Linked DNA regions of Homo sapiens: all the other regions are linked to region 3. The links come from fine-mapping of genetic effects on gene expression. A gene starts in region 3. Each other region holds a variant in brackets. All regions are shown on one strand. Distances are between the middles of the regions.

Region 1 (5,000 bases), 31 kb after region 3:
TGGCGAAAATAGGTACATCTGCCTATTTTTAAATTGAAGGCAGACCTTCAATTTAGGTTGGTAAATGTGTTTTTTATTTTAATTTTGTTTCTTGAAGTTTTTTTTCTTCCTCAGACGAGGTCTCACTATGTTGCCCAGGCTGGAGTGCAGTGGCTATTCACAAGTGTGATTATAACCCGCTACAGCCTCAAAGTCCTGGGCTCAAGTGATCCTACTGTTTCAACCTCCCAGGTAGCTGGGACTACAGATGCATGCTACTATCCTTGGCTCTTCTCTTGGGTGTTTTTTGTGGGGCAGAGAAAGATATAGGAATGTTTGAGAAGTTCATTTTTTAAAGGTATACTTTTTTTTTTTTTTTTTTTGAGACGGAGTCTTGCTCTGTCGCCTAAGCTGGAGTCCAGTGGCGCCATCTTGGCTCACTGCAAGTCCACCTCCTGGGTTCACGCCATTTTCCTGCCTCAGCCTCCCGAGTAGCTGGGACTGCAGGCGCCCGCCACCACACCCGGCTAATTTTTTGATTTTTAGTAGAGATGGGGTTTCACCATGTTAGCCAGGATGGTCTCGATCTCTTGACCTCATGATCCATCCATCTCAGCCTCCCAAAGTGCTGGGATTACAGGCGTGAGCCACCACGCCTGGCCTAAAGTTATACTTTTTAAAAAGAGAAGGCTGGGCACAGTGGCTCATGTCTATAATCCAAACACTTTGGGAGGCCAAGGCTGGAGGACCACTTAGGCCCAGGAGTTTGAGGCTGCAGTAAGCTATGATTGTGCCATTGCACTCTAACCTGGGTGACAGAGCAAGACCTTATCTCGAAAAGAGAAAAAAACCACACATAAAAATAAACAGTAGGAAAAGCATTGTTGAATGCTGTAATTTATTTAAAATAAGGAATAATTAAATAAGCAGTTTCAAAACCTAATATACTTTTCTGTTGGAAGCAGAATGTAAAAATCATGTTTGCAGGAACCTTTATGGGATGTGATTAGAAGCACTGACAGGAAAATCAAAACTTTAGGGAAGTGTCTCCACAGCACTTGAGTGTCCTTTCCTTTCTTTCTTTTTTTTTTTTTTTAGATGGAGTCTCACTCTGTCACCAGGCTGGAGTGCAGTGGTGCGATCTTGGCTCACTGCAATCCCCGCCAACTGGGTTCAAGTGATTCTCCTCCCTCAGCCTCCTGAGTAGCCACCACACCCAGCTAAGTTTTATATTTTTAGTAGAGACAGGATTTCACAATGTTGGCCAGGATGGTCTCGATCTCTTGACCTCGTGATCCACCCGCCTCGGCCTCCCAAAGTGCTGAGATTACAGTCATGAGCCACTACGCCTGGCCCCTTTCCTTTATTTCTAAGCAATACTATTTTGTTCTCACTCCTCATATTTTTATTTTTTGTTCATGAATTCCTTACAGTCACAGGATTGCCGGATAAATATATCCCCCAGGAGTAAATGTGTCCTCACAGAATGTCATAAAATAAAAAAGAATGAAAGCAAGAGTGGTTCCCATGATCTGTGGTGACACCCCAGCCCCGCTCCCCAGCCTACAGAATGCACCATATCTCCTGAAGCCATTGCACATGTGCTATGGATCCAAAAGAGAGTTTCTTCTTGACCTGTGCTGGTGCTTGTGACCTGCCCATAATCCCCAGATCTAATTTCAGAGTAGAAACTATGCAGTGTATTTTACCTTAATTTTTATTTGTCAAAGAAAGTAATAAACGATGGGAAAAATCACCTGCAATCCCTCTGTTCTAACCAACCAAGTATTTTCTTTTTTTTAGTCCTTGTAGCTGCATGCTGCTTTTTCAGTTAGTTGGTAATCAGACCATTTTATATGCTTGGCAGGGAGGTTAGAGTAGCAATTTCCAATCTTTGGAGATGTGATGCTCTCTTGACATTGGGTAGTTTTGCTCACAGACATGTTCCCTTAACTCCCCTCCTCAGTTAAAGACAGCAATAACACTTTTCTTGAGGTGTAATTTACATGCAATAAAATGCATTCATTTTAAGTGTACAGTTCAACAGGTTTGACCAATGTGTACACCATGTAACCACCCCTCCTTCAAGATATAGAATATTTCCACCACCCCA[A/G]AGGTTCCCTTGTGCCCTTTCTCAGGTGATCCCCTGAAACACTCAGCCCCAGGCAACCACTGCAGTGCTGTCACTTTAGTTTGCCTTTTCTAGAATTTCATCTATGTGGAACCATACAGTAATACCTTTAGTTTTTAATGCTTAATCTGCTGACCCAGAATCCGACATTTGCCTTTCATTTAATTTAATTTTTTTTTTTATTTTTTTTGAGATGGAGTCTTGCTCTGTTGCCCAGGCTGGAGTGCAGTGGCACGATCTTGGCTCACTGCAACCTCCGCCTCCCAGGTTTAAGCAATTCTCCTGCCTCAGCCTCCTGAGTAGCTGGGATTACAGGCATGCGCCACCCTGCCCAGCTAATTTTTGTATTTTTTTAGTAGAGACGGGGTTTCACCATGTTGGTCAGGCTGGTCTCGAACTCCTGACCTCGTGATCTGCCCGCCTTGGCCTCCCAAAGGGCTGGGATTACAGGCGTGAGCCACCGCGCCCGGCCTCATTTTATTTAATTTTTACAGGCAGGCTCTCACTCTGTTACCTAGGTTGGAGTGCAGTGGCAAGATCATAGCTCATTGTAACCTCAAATTCCTGAGTTCAAGGAATTCTCCTGCCTCAGCCTCCGAGTAGCTGGGACTACAGGTGTGCACCACCAAGTCTGGTTAATTACATATATATATATATATATATATTTCTAGAGATAGGGGTCTCACTGTGTTGTTCAGGCCGGTCTTGAACTCAAGCAGTCCTCTCCAGTAGGTGGGATTACAGGCACAAGCCACTGCTCCTGGCTTTTGTCCTTTATTCTAAACAACTCTGTAGAGTGTGAAGGATGGGAAGGACTCCATTTGCGGTTTTTCCCTCTTCATAGTTTCCTATTTGTATAATTAATATTTGATTTGCCTAGAGACTAGGGATACATTTTTACTGATGTTTGGAGCATAGAAGAATGCCAGAAAACACCCCCAATTATATTGGCTTTCTGTTTTTTCCAGGTTTGGAGGCACAAGTGGCGGGGCAGAGGGGGAAGGCATTTAGATTCTGTCCTACAGGTCTCTTTCCTTTTTTTTTTTTTGCCATAAAAACAAGACCTGTTCACACCCTTCAAATTGGCAATAAGAGATCTGACACCACCAATTGTTGGTGAGGGTCTGAAGCATCAGATGCTGTTTACAGACTTCCAGGTACAGTCAAGGCACTCCTACCTATGACCTGACAAGTCACCCTTCAGAGTAAGCCACATGTACATGAGACTGTACATATATCATTGTAATCACATATACATGGGAATAATGTCCATCAGCAGGCAAATATAAATTATAGATCATCCATAAAAGGAAGTTTTATAGAGCCATTAAAAGGAACTAATGCACTGTAGTTATGTACTACAGATAACATTCAGCATAGGTGAATCTCACTGACATAGTGTTGAATGAAAAAGGCAAACTATAATATACACACAACTTAATATTTCTTTCCATTTTTAAACAATGTAAATGAATTATATGTGATGTTTGGGGATATATATGTCTGTATTAATGTATACATGAGTGAGAATAAATACTAAACTTGGGATAGTGGTTGTCTCTAGAGGATGAGGGGGTAGAGGGATAGCATGGGTTGGGAGGATGAGGAGAAACACAGAGGGCTTTTGTGTAGGTGTTTTATTTCCTAAATAGAGATAAATACACAGGTGTTCATTATATAGGCATGGGAAGAAGAAAAAAGTTAGTATTGTTTGGGGCAATTCCTCTAGACCAGGGGACTTTTTCTGTAAAGGGGCAGATGGCAAACATCTTAAGCTTTGTAGACTGTACTGTCTCTGAGGAGTTTCTCTAGAGGAAACTTACTCAACTCTGCCATTGTAGCACAAAAGCAGCCTTAGACAATATGAAAGCAAATGAGCATGTTCCAATACAACTTACTTTTAAGAAACAGGCACAGGGCCTGCAGACGGTGGTCTGCTGACTTCTGCACTGAACCAGTGGTTCTTAAAATTGCTCCTCAGCTCCTTCCCCACCCGCCCAGTGGCCTGTATCATGCCTCCATCTCTAATTGTTCATCACAGTTCACAAGAGACTGGAAAAGTTAGGAGGAACAGTATTCTGGGGAAGGTCTTATGTGGAGTAGGGTCCGTTTCTCTTCCTGAAACCGCAACTCTGATCTTTTTTTTTTTTTTTCTTTTTGTGACCGAGTCTTACTCTGTCATCCAGGCTGGAGTACAGTGGTGTGATCTCAGCTCACTGCAATCTCTGCCTCCTGGGTTCAAGCAATTCTCCTGCCTCAGCCTCCCGAGTAGCTGGGACTACAGGCGCATGCCACCACGCCTGGCTAATTTTTTGTATTTTTAGTAGAGAAGGGGTTTCACCGTGTTAGCCAGGATGGTCTCAATCTCCTGACCTCATGATCCACCTGCCTGGGCCTCCCAAAGTTCTGGGATTACAGGCTTGAGCCACCACGCCCAGCCAACTCTGATCTTTATGACTGTCATCAACCTCAGTCATAACTGCCTAAATCAGCTGCATTTTTTTAGCCTTTCTTCTTCCTCTCTTTGTTAACAGAACTTAAATTTTCACACTGGAATTATAAGAAGCCAGCTTGTTGAGGGGAACCTTTGCAACGTATTTCGGGGGGTTGCAGCCACATGGTTTCCAGGTGAAGAGTGTGTGTGGGAGGCTCAGGAAGCAAAGCGGCCTTCTCTCACAGGCGTTGCCTTTGGTCCTAGGATGATTACATGGAAGCCCTGGCCAGGCTCCACCTCACGGTGACCAGGGCCTACAAAGTGAATACTGACATCAACTTCGAGGTGTTTATTCATAAAGTGGATGGTCTGTCAGATGACCACAAAATTGAAACCCAAAGAGATATTCACCAGAGGGCAAACGATGACCTTGCAGATGCTGGATTAGAAAAAATT
Region 2 (7,402 bases), 100 kb before region 3:
AGTCAAAAAACTTGGAATCGATCTTGAAATCTCCTTTCTCCCATTCTTTCTATAGAATGCTTCAATCCACCACTGCATTGTGTTGGTTTTGCTTCCTAAATCTCTCTCCCATCCATCTATACTACCAGGCCAAAATCCAACTGGTATTGTGTCTTAGCTGGGCTTCTGCAGTAGATTCCCAACTAACCATCCTGAATCAACTTTGGCTTCTTCTGATCTTTTCTCTGCAGTATGACCAGGATGATATTCTCAATCTGTAAATTACAGCCAGTATCTCCCTTGCTTAAAAATCTTTAATAGCTTCTGTTAATAGACTGAATTGTGTCTCCCTCCAAAATTCATACGCTGAAGCCCAAACCCCCAGTACCTAGAATGTGACTATCCTTGGAGAGAGGGTCTTTAAAGAGGTAACTAAGGTTAAATGAGGTCATAAAGGTGAGGCTCTAATCCAGCAGGACTGGTATCCTTAGAAGAGACATCAGAGATGTAAGTGCACAGAGATAAAGCCACATGAGAACACAGGAAGAAGGTGGCCATCTGCAAGCTGAGGGGAAAGGCCTCAGAAGAAACCAAACCAGCAGACACACTGATCTTGGAATTTTAGCCTCTGGGAGTGTGAGACAACACATTTCTGTTTGTCATTTAAGCCATCCAGTCTGTGGCATTTTGTAATGGCAGCCCTAGCAAACCAATATAGATCTCCATAGCTCTAGGATAAAGATCAGTGCCCCTGGCTTGACTGAAAAGATTCTGCATGGAGCCACCTCTCTCAACACATCTCTTAACTTTCTGAGCATTGGTCCCATTTGGCCTTTGTTCAATTCCTCATCAGTGTTATGCTTTTTTTTTTGCATCATATGACTCTGTGTGAGCTGATCTGTCTGCCTGAAATACTTAATCCCTCCCCACTGCTCCTGCCAGTCAAAGCCTACTCATCAGTTCATCATTTCTTCCTCAGGGAAGCTTTCCTAATCCCCCAGCTTAGGTCAAGCTCTGTTGTTCCATGTTCCCATGGACTCGTGTTCATTCCTTTCATTCAGATCACTTACCTGTGTTTGTCATAAGATACTTATTTTTTTTTTTTTTTGAGACGGAGTCTTACTCTTGTTGCCCAGGGTGGAGTGCAATGGCGCGATCTCGGCTCACCGCCACCTCTAACTCCCAGGCTCAAGCCATTCTCCTGCCTCAGCCTCCGCAGCAGCTGGGATTACAGGCATGCGCCACCACGCCCAGCTAATTTTGTATTTTTAGTAGAGGCGGGGTTTCTCCATGTTGGTCAGGCTGGTCACGAACTCTGGACCTCAGGTGATCCACCCGCCTCGGCCTCCCAAAGTGCTAGGATCACAGGCGTGAGCCACCACGCCCGGCCATAAGATACTTATTTTTATGATTATTTGGTTGTCTGTTTCCCACTAGACACCATGAAAACAGGAACCATGTCAGTTTTTGCTGTTTAGAGTATCTTCAGTACCTGGCATAGCACCTGCTACAAGGTAAGGGAGTAATAACTATTGAATGAATCCATGAATACATAAAGACATTGACTTTGCTCTCAAGGGCTTGCAGAGAAGTGTATATCCAAAAAAGTCAAGCAACTGCCACAGGGGCTATGACTGGTAAGATCCCATGACCTGCTGATGTGACAGTGGCTACTCCCATCCCATTACATATCATAGTCCCCCCCTTAGGAAAACAAGAGCTGGGTTTCTGTGCATCTACTCTGTTTAGCAATTAACTGTCATAAGGACAAGACAGTTTTCTCTTTTAAAAAGTATCCCCACTGACGGGTTACAGGTGGTCAGAATAAACATAACTATCAAGTTTTTCCTATAAATTATAATAATGATCATGTTGATTAAACAATCTATGTGGACTATAGGTCCAAATTTTTTCATATATAATGGTTCCATTACATTTTTTCCCCACTCTTATGTTTTTAACAAGTATCTCAACAACTTCTTTCGACATTATACTACAACAAGGAAAACTAATAATGGGCACAACTTTCAACCTACCAGAAAAACATCAAATGAGTTTCTTGAGTCTATTATTCCAATAAAAGAGGCCAAAGTTTATTCTATTATGTGCCTTTTCACAATGTATTAAAAATTACACACTATCCCTCTATAAAGAAAGAACTGCATTCCACCAATTTATTCTGAAATAGCAATTAAAATCTAGAAACAATGCAATAAAATTATTAAACTACTATTAATTTTTAAATGTTACAGATAAATTAATTTATGTCAGACCAACTGTATAGGTTTCCTGTGGCTGCTGTAACAAATTACACAAACATGGTGGCTTAAAACAGCAATCTGGCCAGGCGTGGTGGCTTACGCCTGTAACACAAGCACTTTGAGAGGTCAAGGCAGGAGGGTAACTTGAGCCCAGGAATTCGAGACCAGCATGGGCAACATAGTGAGACCCCATCTATACTAAAAATCAGAAAAATCATCTCGTTTTGGTGGTATGCACCTATAGTCTCAGCTACTCAGGAGGCTAAGTGGGGAAGATCACTTGAGCCAGGGATATCAAAGCTGCAGTAAGCTATGATTGTGCCACTGCACTCCAGTCTGGGCAACACAGTAAAGCTCTGTCTCCAAAAAACAAACCAAAAACAAATTTATTCTCACTGTTATTGGGGTCCTCCAGAGAAACAGAACAAATAGGAGATATACAGATAGATATGGATATTGAAAATCTAGAATGAGGCCAGGCACAGTGGCTCACACCTGTAATCCCAGCATTTTGGGAGGCCAAGATGGGTTGATCACTTGAGGCCAGGAGTTTGAGACCAGCCTGGCCAACACGGCAAAACCCCGTCTCTACTAAAAATACAAATATTAGCTGGGAGTGGTGGCACGTGCCTGTAAACCCAGATACTTGCAGGAGGTTGAAGCAGGAGAATCGCTTGAACCCAGGAGGTGGAGGTTGCAGTGAGCTGAGATCACACCACTGCACTCCAGCCTGGGCAACAGAGGCTGTGTCTTAAAAAAAATCTAGAATGGAATTGGCTCCCACAATTTTGGAAGCTAAGTCACACAATCTGACCCCTGTAAGCTGGAAACCCAGGAAAACCAGTGGTGTAAATTTGAGTCTCAGTCTAAAAGCCTGAGAACCAGGATCCCTGATGGTTGTAAGTCTTAGTTGAAGGGCAGAAGATTGATGTCTCAGCTCATGGACTCAGGCAGGGAGAAGTCAACCTTCTTCTGCCTTTTTGTTCCATCAGGACTGGCCCTGAGGGGTTGAATGATCCCCATCCACACTGGGGAGGGCCATCTGCTCTACTCAGTCTATCCAGTCACAGGCTCATCTCTTCCAGAAACACCCTCACAGACACACCCAGGAATAATGTTTAACCAGGTATCTGGGTATCCCATGGCCCAGTCAAACTGACACACAAAATTAACCATCACACTCACAGTTTTGG[A/C]GGCCAAAAGTCTGAAGTCCAGTTGTTGGCAGTGCTGTACTCCCTTCAGAGGCTCTAGGGGAAAATTGTTCCTTGTCCCTTTTAGCTTCTTGTGGCTGCAGATGGTCCTTGGTTCAGGCCACAACACTCTAATCTCTGCCTTGGTTTTCACTTCACCTTCTCTTCGTGCGTCTCTGTCTAATTTCCCTCTGTCTTTCTTATAAGGATATATGTGATTGCACTTAGGGTCCACCCAGATAATCCAGGAGAGGCACCTTCTCTCCAGATCCTACCCTAGTAATCCAGGAGAGGCACCTTCTCTCAAGATCCTATCCAGATAATCCAGGAGAAGCACCTTCTCCCAAGATCCTACCCAGATAATCCAGGAGAAGCACCTTCTCTCAAGATCCTGTCCATATAATCCAGGAGAGGCACCTTCTCTCAAGATCCTTAATAACATTTTGGGGGGCCACATAAGGTAATATCACTCATTTATCATTTAAGGTAATATGCACAGGTTCTGAAGGTTAGGAAATGAGTATGTCTTTGGCAGGGCAGACATTTTACCTGCCGACCATACCAATCCTACCACCAGTAACAACCAGAAAAGCTCAACAAAACATTGAACAAACAAAAAAATCTGTGTGAAGACCAAAGACCCAAGTCCTTGCAAGAACCTAAGTATTCAAGATCATGAAGGAAAGGGTGGTGCAAAGAGGTAAGCCAAATGTTTGAGGACATGTTTTCCTTTGTGGCATTTGCTGATTTGCAAGCAGCTGTGAAGTTTAGGGAACACAAAGGTAGAAAAACTGAGTAAATAAACACTCCAGACTTCAGTTGGACACCCTGAAAAGGGCTAATCATCCTAGAAATAAGGACATACTGGAAAGACACTAGCTTCATAAAGACTGATGCCCAGCTCAGAATCAATTCAAATGAAAGAAAAACCACAGTGACAGGAGATTTATAGTTCATGTATCCAATTAAGGTCTGATGTCCAGAAGACATAAAGAATGTCTTCAAAATCAATAAGAAAAAGATAATCTAATAGGAAAATGCTCCAGAGTTTGAAAAGGTAATTTCACCAAACAGGTTATCCAGACAGCCAATAAGCATATGGAAAGGTGCTCAACTTCAAAAGTCATCAAGGAAATAGGAAGTAAAACTACTACGCCCAGACAAGAAGGACTAAAATTTTAAAAGACTGGAAACACCATGGTTGACACAGATCTGGAGCAATGCTAACTCTTTTAACACCTGTGCCTGAGGATGTAAACTGGTATAACTGCTTTAGAAAACTGTTTGGTAGTGCCAAACATCTATATATCCCATGCCCAAACAATTCCAATTCTAGGTATATAATCAACAGAAATACAAACATGTACACCAAAGGACATATGGGGAATGTTCACTGCAGCATTACTCATAATAAACTATAAATTATTGGTAATCCATCTAATCATAGAAATGAAGTGAACTATTTCCACAAAATATATTATGACAGTCTTTTGAGGATATCTTATGCCCAACATTTTAATTCCATTTACGGCAGGGGTGTCCAATCTTTTGGCTTCACTGGGCCACATTGGAAAAAGTAGAATTGTCTTGGGCCACATATAAAATACACTAACACTAACAATAGCTGATGAGCTTAAAACAAAACAAAACAAAACAAAAACTCCAAAAAAATTTTTTTTTTTGAGATGGAGTCTTGCTCTGTAACCCAAACTGGAGTGCAGTGGCACAATCTCAGCTCACTGCAACCTCCGCCCCCCAGGTTCAAGCGATTCTCCTGCCTCAGCCTCCCAAGTAGCTCGGATTACGGGTACATGCCACAATGCCCGGCTAATTTTTTGTATTTTTAGTACAGATGGGTTTCACCATGTTGGCCAGGGTAGTTTTTAACTCCCGACTTCATGTGATCTGCCCACCTCGGCTTCCCAAAGTGCAGGGATTACAGGCATGATCTACCGCACCCGGCCCTTCATAATGTTTTAAGAAAGCTTACGACTTTGTGTTGGGCCACATGAAAAGCCATCCTGGGCCATATGGCAGCCCACTGGCCACGGGTGAGACAAGCTTGATGTAAGGTTTAGCTACTTAAGTCATTGGAATGTGACAGTCTGATAATTCTTGTTTTCATAAATTGGAACATTAAATTTTCCCACATTATACATTAAAAAATTTATCTATAGAAATAGTGAACGCATTCTGAATTGCTTTGCCATGCCATAAATAGGGAGAGATTGCCTTGTTCTTCACTTTGCTCTCTCTTTGTGTGTCTCTGTGAAGCTCACTGCCACCTAAGACTAACATTAATGCCTTTCTGTTCCAGAATGTAGTTAACCAAAATATTTAGGTTATGTTCTTAAGTAGTTTATTGTTTGGTAATTTAACAGCAAAGTTGAAAATGAAATTTAAAATACAGATAATTTTTTAAAACTGTAAAACAACCAAAATGTACATAAATAGCAGAAGGGATAAACTGTGATATATGTTCATACTACATAAGAATGTAAATCAATAAACTATTACTATTTATAACCATGTGGATAAATCTTGCAAATATCCTGCTAAGCAAAAGAGGTCAGATACAAAAAGGATATGCCATATGATTCTCCTTATATAGAATTCAGAACAGGCAAAAGTCATCGATTGCATTATAAGTCAAGAGAGTGATTTGGAGGGGAAAGCAGGTTAAGGATTGGGAGGGGGGATACTGGAAATTTGGCAGTATTCAATTTCCTGATTTGGGTGGTAGTTACGTGATGGCATTCCCTTTGTGAAAATTCATCAATCTGTATTTTTACGGTTTGTGCACTTTTCATTTGGTATATATTTTAATTGAAAGTTAAAAGAAAAAACAGCCATGACAGCCATGCACAGTGGTTCATGCCTGTAATCCCAGCTACTCAGGAAACTGAGGAGTTTGAGACCAGCCTGGGCAACATAGTGAGTCTCTGTCTCTAAAAATACTTTTTCAAATTTAGCCAGGCATGGTTGCACATGCCTATAGTCCCAGCTACTCAGGAAGCGGAGGCAGGAGGATCCCTTGAGCCCAGGAATTCAAGGCTGCAGTGAGCAATGATCCCACCGCTGCACTCCAGCCTGGGCAACAGAGCAAGACATTATCTCTTAAAAAAAAGAGAGAAAAAGAAAGAAAAAAAGGAAAAAGAAATAGAAAAGAAAAAAACAGCTATGAACTATGAGCTTCCAGATCTGAATTTTCTGAGTGGAAACCATTCACTCTTCTAAGACAGACAACAAAGATTATTACTTCTTCTAGATTAGCTATGAAATCTATCCCAATCAGTATCTGATTAAAATTGATATTTATGTGCAACATGCTGCACAGCCATTTGCTAAGCTTATTGGCATTTCTGACACTTCCAGGGAATCCAATTCCATGCTTCACTAATACTGGTAAAGCACTGAAAATATCTCCTCCAGCCAAAGTCCAGGTTTACCCCAACAGACAAACACAGATGCTGCTCCTTGTGCCCACCCTGGCCACAGCCCCACACTCCAGGCTGCACAGCTGGCTGCCAGTGACAGTATGGGATCCCCAAAACCCATGACTGCACTCCGCCCCCTAACTTAGAAACAGACACTCATTGTTCTGAGACCAAAACCAAGAGGTGGCTTAGATTTGCCCCATGGTAGTTCATGTGGGAGTGGAGAGAATAGAGTGCAATGACAAATCTGTATGACACTTAACACTGCAAACTTTCCTTTGTTCATCAGGAGACCCAACCTCTCTACTGGATGTTTTACAAATATAGCATTGACTGGCGTTTAAGACTGTTGCTGTAAGTTTATGTTGGGAGTAACAACGATCAAAGCAGAAGATAATTTTTACTTTTCTATACCATCTATGCATGGAAGTCTATCTACATGGCCCATACAGGCTTATCATATGACCTTGTAACTGCTTTCATGTTGACTTCTCCAGGACTCAAAGAACAGTCAAGGTAACCCCACAATCAGGAG
Region 3 (7,031 bases):
AAATAATATAAACCAGAAAGGGTACTAAATTACTTGCCATTTGTCTTCCTAGTAAAAGGAATGACAATCCACAGTTGTATTATAACAAGAAGTTTTCTTTCTTTTGTTGGTTAGGAAGCTTTTCAGTTTTTTGTTTGTTTGTTTGTTTTGTTTTTTGTTTTCCCTTTTCTCTTAGTGAATCCTGCAAATTAAATCCGGCTGAGACAACAGATCCATTTTTTGAGTGTCTATATGAGCTTTGCTTCTTTACTTAGGAGATTGGGAGCAGCTAATCACTTCCCTTCTACCGTTTTCAGTTCAATGGCTTTAATGTAGAGTTTAGCCTTAGGCCATTAAATGGGACTAAGGCAGGGGTGTCCAATCTTTTGACTTCCCTGGGCCACACTGGAAGAAGAATTAATTGTCTTGAGCCATATATAAAATATACTAACACTAATGATAGCTGATGAGCTAAAAAAAAAAATTGCAAAAACGTCTCATAATGTTTTAAGAAAATTTATAGATTTGTGTTGGGCTGCATTCAAAGCCATCCTGGGCCATGGGGTGTATAAGTTTGGATTAAGGTTTCATGTCAGGCTGTCTGAGTTCCAAAGTAGTTCCTCCATCCATTCTGTGCAGTACCTTGGGTGACTTGTTTAAATTGAGTTTTCTTATCTATAAAGTAGAGGGGATGATATCACTTTCTTAGAGGGAATATTTTAAAGTTCATATTATCTTGGAACAGTGCCTCCTTATTTGTAGAAAATCTCAGTAAATGTTAGTTGGCTAAATTTTAATGGGTAATAGACAAAGCTCTTCTTTCATGATGCTAAAAATGTCTAAAAATTAAGAGTTTTTTTTTTTTAAGAAGGAAAAGTTAGTTGAAATAAAATAAGCATTTAGTCGTCGTGATATTGTAGTCTCTTCAGATCTCAGGCAGTCTTGGACAGATGAAGGCCTAAGACTTATGCTCTTTTTGCATGTCAGCTCATTCCTAGTTGCTCTCTTGTAGCTAACACTTCATATTTACCCACACTGTGGCATTTCCCAAGGTTTGGAGCAAGTAGAAAACTTGGCTGCTATTTCTTCCTGAAGTTTCTCTCAGAAATAGGCTAGATCTGTGTGAAGAGCCATATACTATCTTCCTCCGTTCTTCCCACCCTTCTTTTCTTCTTCTCTTCCTCCCTCCCTTCCTTCTCTCCTTCTTTTCTTTCTCCCATCTCTCTTTTTTTCCATAAGCATTTATTAAGCACCTGTCAAGTATAAGCCATGGTTACATACTTGCCATGGTTACATACCACAGCAGAAACCATGGGTAGCCCAGAGACCAATCTTCACATTCTTCAGAGCACTCTCCTGGGGAGACATCCCCAGACATAGGCTGAGCTCCAGTGCAGAGCGGCCAAGGCAGCAGCCAATTCACTGAGCAGATCCCACGCTGAGTTTCTTAAAGGCTTTCAGGGTTCTTGTAGTGTTTTTCAGTTTTTATTTAAATTCAGAAAGATTCTACACACATGATTTTTTAAATTCAAGAACTTCTATTTCTAGGATATTTTCAACATATCTCTTCTTTGAAAGCTGACAGTATTCAAATGATGTCAGCAAAAGAAAAAAAGCAATCAAGGCTTTTCCTGTTCTGTTCAACTATACATTTCTGAAATGGTAGTAAATTAGAATATCTTAAATCTGTATATGACTCTTTAGCTTGGGGTAGAATATAATTGAGGATTTGACTTCTACTGATTTTTTTGTGGGATTTTATTTTATTCTTATTCTTAAGAATGGTCCAGGTTGGGTGCGGTGGCTCATGCCTGTAATCCCAGCACTTTGGGAGGCCGAAGTGGGTGGATCACCTGAGGTCAGGAGTTCGAGACCAGCCTGGCCAACATGGTGAAACGCTGTCTCTACTAAAAATACAAAAATTAGCTGGGTGTGGTGGTGCATGCCTGTAGTCCCAGCTACTCAGGGGCTGAGGCAAGAGAATCGCTTGAACCTGGGGGGTAGGGGTTGCAGTGAGCTGAGATCATGTCACTACACTCCATCCTGGGTGATAGAGTGAGACTCCATGTTAAAAGAAAAAAACAAAAGAATGGTCCAATTCTCAAGTATCTTGGAGTGTGCCCCAATCTATTGTTTCCTTCTAAGATCTCTCTTCCTGGGGAAGTTAGAGGATCATCAGACATTTCTGTCCTTTCTAGTCCATAGGCACAGTGGGGCTGTTGGATTATGACCTGCCCTTTCCTGATCCCTTGAGTCCATGGGTCTTACACACTTGGCAACCTGCCCAGGAATGCCCTATACGTCTGAGTCTGGGTTGACCTTGGACAGTCTTCTAGATCTCCTAAATTGTTATTTGCAGTTTGAATCAGACCAGTTCAAAGGCCACTTGAGGATGGTGGGCTAGCTATAGAATAGCTGAAAGTCCTCAGCCACACTCTGGGAGGCCCTCCTCCCTGGGGTTTCCTTTGACGGAAGGGATGAAAATAGGCTAGGAAAATTACTCCTAGGAAATGAGCTTTGTAAGTACCTGAGATTTTTTTTCCGCCTCATTTAATCTTCCTAATAATCCTTAGAAGGAGTGATGTTCTATTGATAAGCAATCGGGTTTAGAAGGGCATAAGTAACTTGCCTCTGATGGGAGTATGTAGTGCCTGCTTGTGTTGGTGATGCTCCTTGCACCTCACCCCACCCAGGGACCCACTCCCTGCCCTCCCTATCCAATCTCTGTCCTGGACTAGGTTCCAGGCTCCCTTGCCTTCTGGCTACCAGATGGGTTTGGCCAATGGGAGACACAGGAGAGTGGAGGGAGGATGGATGGAGAGAAAGAGAGGTCTTTGCTCTCTCCTTGATGTGAGGCCGTTCTGGCAGCAGCAGCTTCCTCATCAGTTACAGCTCCTGTTTTGTGGCCCCTCTCCAGGACTCTAGCTCCCTTCCTCACTCCTGTAAATTTAGGGGTGGTGTTATCTTCCCACTATCGCTAATACCTGCATTGATTCCCTAAACTCTGTCCACACCCCTGTAAATTGTTCCTTCACTTGAAGGCTTCAGTTAAAGTCTTTGCACATACCGTCTGTTTCATCCTGGGAAGAACCTTAACTGATACAGTCATACCAAATTATACTGCCTGCCTCCCTTGGAAAATCTCAGGACCTTTCCCATTAGAAGCAGCCACCTTCTGGAAAGTGTCTGCATCCACCTTCTGCACTCAGAAATACTAAAAAAAATCCAGGACATGAGTCATGATTTGGTAGACTGTGAGCTCCTTCAGGGCAGGAACACTGCCCTGAGCATTCTTGGACCCTCTACTTAGCCCAGCCTCAGGCATATAGGAGGTGGTTAATAAATGTTTCCTATGGAGGTTAGCACCCTTGGGCCCTGAGAGTCTCCTGCCCTAGCTTCCTCCCTCCGCTTCTGCACCGCACCACCGGCTGAGCTGCTGGCACCTGTAGGAGCTGGATCATCATGCTGACCGGCCGGTTTTTTCTTATTGTGCTCCACAGAAGGAAGTTCATCCACGTAATTTTTTGCAGTACCCAGAAAGGGTGGGTACAGTGTGTTCCGTGGTGAAAAGCTTGTGAAGGAGGAATGCAGGTTTTAGAGTCTCACTCCACGTTGCTGCTATTCCTATTTGAGAATTGCCCCCCCACCACCGCCACTCCCCTACTCCCACAAAAGCCTTGAAATATTTTATTCATGTGGGATTACAGTCTATGCAACAATGAGACATGAGGAGGTGGCCATGAATAGCCCCCGAGTGTGTTATACACTGAGACCTTTTCCAAAGGGCTGCAGAGGAATTATTTAGTCTAAGCAGCCACGAGTCATGTGATTTCTTCAGAAACATTTACGTCTGGGTAGGCCTGCTTTTTAAATATTCTTGGTGGGAAGCACTTTGAACCATAAAGGCACACTAAAAGACAATTGCTATGGAGACTGCGCCTCCACTGTGCATTTATCTGAGTTCTCCGCCTGGGGCTCTTGAGCGTCCACAGGGTGTCCTGGGCACGCTGCTCTGGGGTGGGGGATCTGGGCGCCACAGTGTTGGGAGGCCACCCGCTTGGGACCCTAGCTCAGGACTGTAAGCAGGAGGCATCCGCCCACGGTAGACGCTCTGCGGGCGTGTGGGAGTGGGACGGCGGGGGGGACATTGAGGGTGTGCGGCGCCCCCTCCCCTGCCTGTGCGGGGACCACGTGAAGGAGAGGCGCGTGGGGGCCCCTGGCGCGCAGCCGCGGTGGGTGACGGCCGGCGTCCCGGGGGCCCCGTGTACGGGGCGTGTGTCGGTGTGAGTCTGGGAGGGTGCAGGGGCCCCGCGCCTCCCCGGTCTCCTCGTGCGTGTGCGTGTGCGTGTGCATGTGTGTCCTCGGCCCAGCGCCCCGCCGAGTGGTGCCCGCGGCCGGGCGAGCGCGCGCGCGCCCGTGCGGGGTGTGTATGTGAGTATGTGACAGTGTGTGTCAGGTGACTCGGGTCACGCAGTCTCTCTCTCTCTCCCTCCTCCGGGAGGAACTGCCGCGCTCCGGCTGACTCCTCCGCCGGCGGGCGGGGCGGGGGAGGGGGCTTCGGGCGCGCTGGGAACCGCGGGACCCGGACCTGGGCGCCGCCCGCCGGGGGACGCGCGGCCCCCGCTTCCGCCGGGCCCCGCTGAGCTCTAGACAAACCTCCGCTTCAGAAATAGGCTGCGGGCGGCCGGCTAGGAGGCTTGGCCCCCACCCCGGGACCCCCGCCGTCCCCGGGCCGGCCGGCCGGTGGGCACGATGAGCCAGGTGCTGGGGAAGCCGCAGCCGCAGGACGAGGACGACGCGGAGGAGGAGGAGGAGGAGGATGAGCTGGTGGGGCTAGCGGACTACGGAGACGGGCCCGACTCCTCCGACGCCGATCCGGACAGCGGCACAGAGGAGGGAGGTGAGCGCCCGGCCCCCGCGTCCTCGGCTCGCGCCCCTTTCCTCCCCTTGGCGCCTTCCCGCCCCCAGCCCGGCCGTGCGCGAGCCACCGACTTGGAGGGGGTCCAGGGGAGCGGGTCCAGTTGAGGGTTTGGGGTGGGGAGGGACGCCAAAAGCCCGACCTCGAGCTGCCAAATGAGGGAGCGCGGTGCTGGTGGCGGAGGGGCAACCAGGATCGGTGGAAAAGGGGAAGGAGGGAGTAAGCGTCTGGGCTGGAGGAGCGCGCGCTTCTGCCCCTTTCAGAGCCGGTGCCTCCCGCGCCCCTCACCCCAAGCTCTCCGCAGCGTCTGGCGGTTGGGGAGGGGAGGGGACCGCGGGCGCGCCCTGGGACCTCTCTCCCAGAACGGTGCTGTTGAAGCCAGGGTCAGATGTCGTGGCTAAAAAAAGGCAGCCGGCGGCGGCGTGACTGGCAGGGTCGTCGGCAGCTGCGGGTGTCAGTCTCGCCCCGCGTCGCCGCGGGAGGGGCCCACCCAGGTAGTGGCTGGGGAGACCCGCGGGGCGGCGGGGGGATGCTCGCCAAGCTGTTGTGGGAGTCTCCGAGAGGCCGCAGATTTCCCGGGATCCACGCAAACACCGTTGTCAGGACACCTTATCTGCTCTCGGTATCACCACCTGGACATGGCAGTGCCTGCCCGGGAGTGAGCGCGCGGCGGGGAATTCTTTGCTTCAATAGTGAAGCAAACTCTTTTTCCTGTTCTAGAAGCGGGTTTTAGCAATCGTTCAGCTTGTGGGGGCTTCCTGCATTTTCTTAAGGTGTAAGGAAGTTGAGAGCCTTTTAGTATTCCAGAGAGGTTAAACTTTTTTTAGTTTCCCTCAGAAGCGAGCAAAAGTTCCTTTACTGTAAGGTCACTTGGAAAGGTCAATAGAAAGCGGCTGTTAAACATGATGTTATTCTCAGTGAAACTGTATGCATCCAAGAGAAGGAACTAACTTTAATGTTTCACACTGAAGAAATTGTGTGAGAGATACAAGTACCTTTGTGACTATTGATTTTTAAAGAACTTTTATTGAGAATTCACTGAACTTATTTTAAATTCTCTATGCAAAGCTTTTCTCACTAGGGTAGTTTCATTATTCTACATCTGGCAGGCACGACTTTCAATGAATCAGAAAGGAAATAAAGTTAACTATGCCTTGCGCCTGGTAGATGAGAAAGCAGCCTCTCAAGTCACCCTTTTTCATAGCGTTTTCTCTCTTGGGATGATTTGTGCTAATTCCTCATTTGCTTAAACTGATGTGTGCACCTTTGTGCTTTCTGTCTTCTGCACTCCCGGTAATTGGTCTTACCGTTGAGCACCAGGCCACATTTTTGTAGATAAAGGCTTTCAGCCGTTTTATTGGAGTCTCTAGAGCTACCTTCCGTAATTAAATTGTTCAGTCGCCTCATTATTATTCAAATTCCATTTGTTAGCTCCTCCCAGATTCTTAGAAGACTCCGGAGAGATGCAGAATAGGGATGTATTTGCAAGGTATTTGAAATGGTGGACACAGTAGGGTGTGTGTGGGATTCTCTTTTTTAAAAAAGAAAAAAAGTGGGGGGGCGGAGGGGCCATATCCAGGAGGGAAAGCCCTGTAATTTGATACTGTCCTGAGGCCTGGAGGGTCCAGAAAAAGTACTGGACCCCTCGTTTATTCTGCAGTTCTTTAAGTGGGCACTTTTAAAATTTGATTTGGGGACTTGAAATTGAAGTGAAATTAAAGCCCTGCTTGAGGGATGGGATTCCCGGAACAAAGGGCTTCCCCAGAGCCCAGACTTGGAGGCTCCTTAGCTGTTAACGTAAAGGCAAACTTGCCTGTAACTGATTTTTGGTGACTCGCATAATAAAATCCTTCTGAATGGGCTTTTGGGATCAGCTTGGGATCTTGCTATAAAAGGATTAAATATATTTATATTGTGAGAAGAGCAACATGTTTGCTCGGCAAACGTTGCTTAAGCCTGGTCTCTGTCCACCTGGGCCTGCAGTGGATAGGTGGTCTGCTTCTCAGACTTCCTCCGTTATATTTTGGCCTCTGTTCTTTCCAGATTTCCCTGGCTTTGACTTTTGGGTTTAGGCCTTGATGCAGAATCCCTTGTCAGGACATTTGCTCTCTAGTGTCAGATAGGCTCCTCAGTC

Direction of the effects. Positions count from the first base shown, and alleles are read on the strand shown. Sizes are in standard deviations (SD) of each study's normalised expression. Not every link is listed here.
For the expression in monocytes of the gene that starts at base 4,452 in region 3, A is the low allele of the variant in region 1 and G is the other (moderate effect, 0.73 SD a copy in CEDAR).

Evidence for each region. PIP is the estimated chance that this variant, and not a neighbour inherited with it, causes the effect.
Region 1: its variant is the best candidate, but not a certain one, in a credible set for the expression of RRAGD in monocytes (CEDAR, PIP 0.76).
Region 2: its variant is the best candidate, but not a certain one, in a credible set for the expression of RRAGD in whole blood (TOPMed, PIP 0.76).

Annotation. Positions count from the first base shown.
Region 1 is chr6:89,380,176-89,385,175 of GRCh38, reverse strand. It overlaps RRAGD (Ras related GTP binding D), which reads left to right. Exons shown (of 7, transcript NM_021244.5): 3 at 4,809-5,000. Among named protein-coding and RNA genes, the nearest start is that of RRAGD, 30 kb to the left of the region's middle. The variant A/G (reference allele first, on the strand shown) is at 2,093.
Region 2 is chr6:89,512,088-89,519,489 of GRCh38, reverse strand. All of the region lies in intron 1 of ANKRD6 (ankyrin repeat domain 6), which reads right to left. LOC105377889 (a long non-coding RNA gene) reads left to right here and starts at 7,309. Exons shown (of 3, transcript XR_001744257.2): 1 at 7,309-7,383. The variant A/C (reference allele first, on the strand shown) is at 3,434.
Region 3 is chr6:89,409,694-89,416,724 of GRCh38, reverse strand. RRAGD (Ras related GTP binding D) reads left to right here and starts at 4,452. Exons shown (of 7, transcript NM_021244.5): 1 at 4,452-4,879. The coding sequence starts at 4,732. RefSeq lists silencers at 4,036-5,225, 5,256-5,365, 5,396-5,495.